Regions from separate parts of the Homo sapiens genome. Here region 2 is linked to region 1. The links come from fine-mapping of genetic effects on gene expression. A gene starts in region 1. The other region holds a variant in brackets. All regions are shown on one strand. Distances are from middle to middle. Region 1 holds the start of PLCB4 (phospholipase C beta 4). Region 2 has its middle 34 kb from the start of PLCB4.

Region 1 (2,897 bases):
GCCTGGACTATTGTTTGCACACACATTCCCCCTCCATTTCTTACACTTCACGCCCCGTCTGGCCCTTTCTTTCCTCCTGGCCAGCCGGACCGGCTCAGGCGGCTGAGCATGCCTAGTGCAGCTGCGAGCATGGCCCCAGTCCCCAATGCGCAGGTGCCACGTCTCCGGGTTTTGGTGGCCGCCGGCCGGGAGAAGGAGGAGGCGGAGTGGGGAGGAGGGAGCCCTCCGGAGTTCGGGAGCAGCACGTTGTGAGGGTCCACACAAGGGTGATGCCAGACCGAACACCATTAGGGCCTGGGTGTGAGTGTGACTCGGAGGCACCTGGGGGCCGTTGTAGGGCCGGGAAAAGCCAGGAACTGGCTGGAGCAGCACCCCAGCATCCCAGGGACCAAAGTCTGGGGGATTTGCATGTCTGAGGTTGCACTTGTGGGAAGACTTTTTGGAACCACTTAATCTCTGTGGCTCTGTGTAAGACCCGCGAAATAAAAAGAGGCAGTAGTACTCTTTGGAAGATTGTTTTAGGGATTAAATGAATAAAAAGCGTTTAGAACACTGCAGGACGCATTGTAGGCGCTGTATGGGTTTATGAAACCGAATATAAACAAATAAGCACGTCCCCCACCCAGCCAACGGCTTTGGGGGCCCCGTTCTGGCCAGTCCTGAGCCCCTCCACACGGCCCACGGCGGGCTGCGGGTCTCCCATCCGAGGAGGGTGCCGCTTTTCTGCCCCCGCTCCCTGGGTTCTGCGCCCAGCGCCATCCCGTGCGCCCCCGACCCTTGGGCATGGGGCACATGCCGCGGGGAGCCGCCAGGGAGACCCCAGAGGAGCGCGCCGCGGGCCGGCTTCCCCGGATGCCCCACCCACCTCCTCTTGGCGCTGCCCACCACCTGCCTCGGCTGCTCGGCCCCCGGCTCGCGAGGCTGCGCCCCCGACCCAGTCGGCGCCCACTCCTCGCCCTGCGGGCTCGCGGCAACTGGGCGGCCGGCCCGGCCCCTGCCCACCCCCAGCCCAGCCCGGCGCGCCGCACTGGGCATGCTCCGTAGCCTGGGCAGGTTGGGGCTGCGAGGCGACAGCTCGGGCTCTGGAGCCGGGAGGCGAGAACGAGGAGGGAGGCTCGGGGGCAGGGGAGGAGGAAGCGGCTGGCCGCTGAGGGGCGGCGGGGCCCGGAGCGGGGGACGCGCAGGGCCCGGCGGTGGGCGGGCGGGTCGGCGCTGCCCCGTGGGCTCGCTGGGGAGCCACGGCGGAGACCCCCGCCCTCAACTGAGGTAAGGACCGCGCGGCGCGGAGACGGGGAGGCGGGGAGGCCAGGGAGGGGGTGCGGAGGCAGGCGGGAGGGCGGGACTGGGGTGCGCCGGGAGGGGGCTTGGCGGCGGCTCTTTATGGCGAGGAGGGGGTGGTGGCGCCGCGCCGGGAGCAGTAAGTGAGCTGCACCGCCAACAAGATCTCTCACACACAGACACACACACGCACACGCACACACGGGCGCGCACACACACGCGCGTACACACTGGGTCTCCAGGCAGCGGCCGTCGCCGCATCCCCGGCAGCAGCTCCAGGCAAAGTGACAGGTAGGAAAAGGCATTTCGGGTCCCGCCCGAGGATGCTCCCGCCCGCCTTGGCCCTCAGGGCTTGTTTGCTTTCCGCGGGTGCGTCCCGGACGCGCGCGCGCGCGCACCCGGATGCCCAGCGGGGACCCCGTGCAGGTGCCGGGTGCCAGGCGCCCTGTGCGCGCGGGAGGCAGGGGACCCAGACGCCATCCCCCTTCCCCTGCAGTCATCGCCTGCTGGGTTTCCTCAGACTCTCTCCAGACGTTCACCCTCTTCTGGGCTAGAAATAGCTCGGCTCGACGTGTATATGATTATTTTGGTTGGAAATAGTTGGCACCGTGCAACGCATGTAAATGTGTATGCGTGTGGATCTTCTTGCCTCTTCTGGGGAAATCATAGAAATGATTGACCGTTTCCACTTAAAACAACACTGACAGGCTTAGCACTCATTGGGGGCAGGGTTCGGGCCTCCTAAAAGCCTGTTAGTGAAGGAAATCCTTATTTTCAGAATTTTAAAGTTGCTTTTGCTTTAACCAATTAGACTCTGTATAGTACAATACTTCTGAGTGTAGACTTCGTATATGGTACTGAATCGAAGTATGGAAATATGGAATTCTCTAATTTCCAAGTGTGTTTAAGTGCAACTTTATCTAGAATCATAAAACTAGCATTTTCCTAGAGAGAAATACAACTGCCCACTATAGTTTCCATAAATATGGATATATCTGAAAGATGACCCTACTCTTCCAACTTTTTTTCCTCTTAACTTCTGTAGTGATTCTAGCTATTGTTCTAAAACATGTATTTGAAATTTAATTTTGGCCAGAATATTCAGGAAAGGTGTTTTTTTTTCCATATACGTAATACTTAGTGGTCTATATATTTAAGTTATAGGTATGTGGAGATAGCTGTTTAATAATTCTTTTTGTCTGGAAATAACGTTATTCAAACATAGGCAGCTATGTATCATTTTAAAATGATATTGAATTTCCCCTTAAAGAGAAATCAGATTTATAATGTAAACATGACCAGGAAAAGCAACTGGTGACTTTACCTGGGGAGGCTCCAAGGAGGTTAAGAAAGTATCTGAACAACTGTGTTTTTCAGAATAGAAAAATTGTGTGTGTGTTGCGGGGGAAGGTAAAATTTTAACTTTATTCTTTTATTGTTTTCAAGACGGCTGTTTTCAGAAATGTGTGGTTGAACTGAGACCCTCATATTTTATACTCTTCAAATTTGAGTGGCCTCAGTTATAGAATCATACAGAAGATCAAAAGTCTAGCTCAGCAGGGGCATGTGGTGTAATCCCTCACTATCTGTGTTATGTAATCCAGAATGCTGTTTTTCAT
Region 2 (2,912 bases), 34 kb before region 1:
AAGTGGCGGTATTTGGTTTTCTGATCCTATGTTAGTTTGCTAAGGATAATGGCCTCTAGCTCCATCCACGTCCCTGCAAAGGACATGATCTTGTTCTTTTTTATGGCTGCATAATATTCTATGGTGCATATGTACTACATTTTCTTTGTCCAGTCTATCATTGATGGGCATTTAGGTTGATTCCATGTCTTTGCTATTGTGAATAGTGCTGCAATGAACATATGCGTGCATGTGTCTTTATAACAGAACAATTTATATTCCTTTGGGTATATACACAGTAATGGGATTGCTGGGTAGAATGATCACCTCATTTTGAGTCCTGAATCAGCCATCTCATACATTAGGTCCAAACTCACCCTTTGTAGTGACCCAAGCCAATAAGGTCCCTCTATGCTCAAACAAATTTGAGTTGAGTCCTGACATAGATAACCTTGGTCAACTGCTTGACTTCTTTACTGATGCAGCTTAGCATTAATTCCTAAACATTCTTCTATATCTCTGCTAGAGTAGAAAGAGAGAGGGAAGAGAGATTTCTTTCAGTATGAAGCAGTAAATCTTTCTCATACTTTGCTTTTTGTACATTGCTTTATGGTTTAAAAACACATGCATTTGAAGTACAGATAAATCAAAACAGAAAATGGAAACATAAGAAACTCCATTTTAAGAAATCACCATCTACTGTGTCATTAAGTCTTATAAAAATTTTTCTGCCATTGATAATTTTGGTGTCTCACCCAGACACCCAGTTGATGTAAATGTTGGCTGTTCATAGTTCATAGATGTATCCTTCTCTGGAGAGCTGTCCTTGGCTGTGGGAGCCGCCTCACCCACAATGCCCTGGGAAATGGTGGCTTCTCCTACAAAGAGCCCCCAGTTAGTAGCCAATATGGTGAATTTTTAAAAGCCCAGCCCCCTTGCTTTAAGGGAAGACAGCTCTGTGGTGCTGCTCTTGCTCCAGAGCTCCCTGCAGGAACAGGCTGAGGCTACCCTTTAGCTGAAAGTGATCCTATCTGGTTTCTTTCTGGTGCTATCTGAGTTGTTCCTGAGAACATCTCAGATTTCGCCTCTACAGAATCCTAGCTAAGGCATCATCATTAGCGCCTTCATACTCTATATTCATCTTTTCATTTTTATTCCTACTGAAACTACTCTCAGCATTCTATCTCTCATGGTGAGAGTTAGCTAGAGTTAGCTCTAGCCTTTCCTGTATAGAATAGTCAGTTTTAGCATTTACATCCCTACTAAAAATGCTTTTGAAGAACTTGGCGGCTGGGCATGGTGGCTCATGGCTGTAATCCCAACACTTTGGGAGGCTGAGGTGGGTGGATCACTTTGAGCCCAGGAGTTTGAGACCAGCCTGGCCAACATGGCAAAACCCCATCTCTACAAACAATACAAAAATTAGCCAGGCATGGTGGTGTGCACCTGTAGTCCCAGCTAATCAGGACGCTAAGGTGGGAGGATCAGTTGAGCTCGGGAGGTTGAGGCTACAGTGAGCCATGATTATGTCAGCCTGTGTGACATAGGTTGTCTCAAAAAAAAAAAAAAAATACAAAAACAAACTTGGCTCTGCTTAAAGGTTTCTGTAAAACCCTCCTGAATACTCACCTCTATCTCCCACACACCCCCAGATTTTAAGCATTCTGCTTTGACCCTCACAATGTTCTGCTTTATAGTAGTTAG[C/T]CTTTTGCAAGCCTGTCTTATTTGAGAAGAGTTTGTGTATCTTTCATCCATGTGTCCCTAAAGCATTTTTCAAAATTTTCCCCTCAGGATGCACACCAATAAATGCACTGGTGAGGATATCTTAGCTACAGCCTTAGAGCCCTTTAAATGCCCCCTGCTTGGCTGGGCTTGGTGACTCATGCCTGTAATCCTAGCCCTCTGGGGAGAATTACTTCAGGCCAGTAGTTGGAGACCAGCCTGGGAAACATAGCGAGATGCTGTCTCTACAAAAAATTTCAAAATCAGCCAGACGTGGTGACACATACCTATAGTCCCAGCTAGCTACTTGGGAGGCTGAAGCAGGAGGACCACTTGAGCCCAGGAGTTTGAGGCTGCAGATCACGCCACTGCACTCCAGCCTGGACATCAGAGTGAGACACTGTCTCTAAAAATAAAAATAAAAATAAATAAATAAATAAGCAAATCCCCCTGGTGCACAGCAGGGCTGGCACAACAGCCTAGAGCAGAACAGAAGGATGAGGAGAGATTAATTCACCCCAAGTGACTATGGAGATTGTGGAAGCAAAGGGGACAGGGAAAGGGGTAAATTGAAGGGAAGCCCAGATTTGCATGAGTGTAACAATATATTCATAAACAGAGAAGGCTTTGATTGTATGGGAAGAGGGGAGGCAGGTCTTTTCCTGGGCCAATCAGATAGTAGGAATGTGGTGGTGGTAGGTATAGCTGCTGGTGTACTTATTATATAGTCATAATGCACTAAGGTCCCAGTCAGGGTAAGGTTCTAGATAAAAGGCGCTATGATCTCAAGGCAGGTGGGGCCAGCTGGAGACAAGAGGTACTGGCATGGCTCCCTATCTTATTTTTCCATGAGTTTTCAAGGTCAATACAAGGTGGGAGACCACTCTCCATAAGAGGATGTCATTCTGTGTTGTAACTCATAAAAAGAATATGTCATTAGTGTGTATAACTTCTACTTGTGTCTGAACTTCCCCTTTTCCCAACAAGCAGGGGCAAGAGGTCCCTCCCGCATATTCCTAGTAGTGATTAATCAGGGAACTGGCATTTTGGACACATGGGCTGGGCAATTTGGCATCTTTTTTTTTTTTTTTTTTGAGACAGAGTTTCACTCTTGTTACCCAGGCTGGAGTGTGATGGTGCAATCTCAGCTCACTGCAACCTCTGCCTCCCGAGTTAAGCGATTCTCCTGCCTCAGCCTCCCAAGTAGCTGG

Evidence for each region.
Region 2: its variant is fine-mapped to the expression of PLCB4 in fibroblasts (GTEx, PIP above 0.99).

The regions. Positions count from the first base shown.
Region 1 is chr20:9,067,638-9,070,534 of GRCh38, forward strand. PLCB4 (phospholipase C beta 4) reads left to right here and starts at 1,450. Exons shown (of 40, transcript NM_001377142.1): 1 at 1,450-1,569.
Region 2 is chr20:9,033,443-9,036,354 of GRCh38, forward strand. No RefSeq gene overlaps it. Among named protein-coding and RNA genes, the nearest start is that of PLCB4, 34 kb to the right of the region's middle. The variant C/T (reference allele first, on the strand shown) is at 1,684.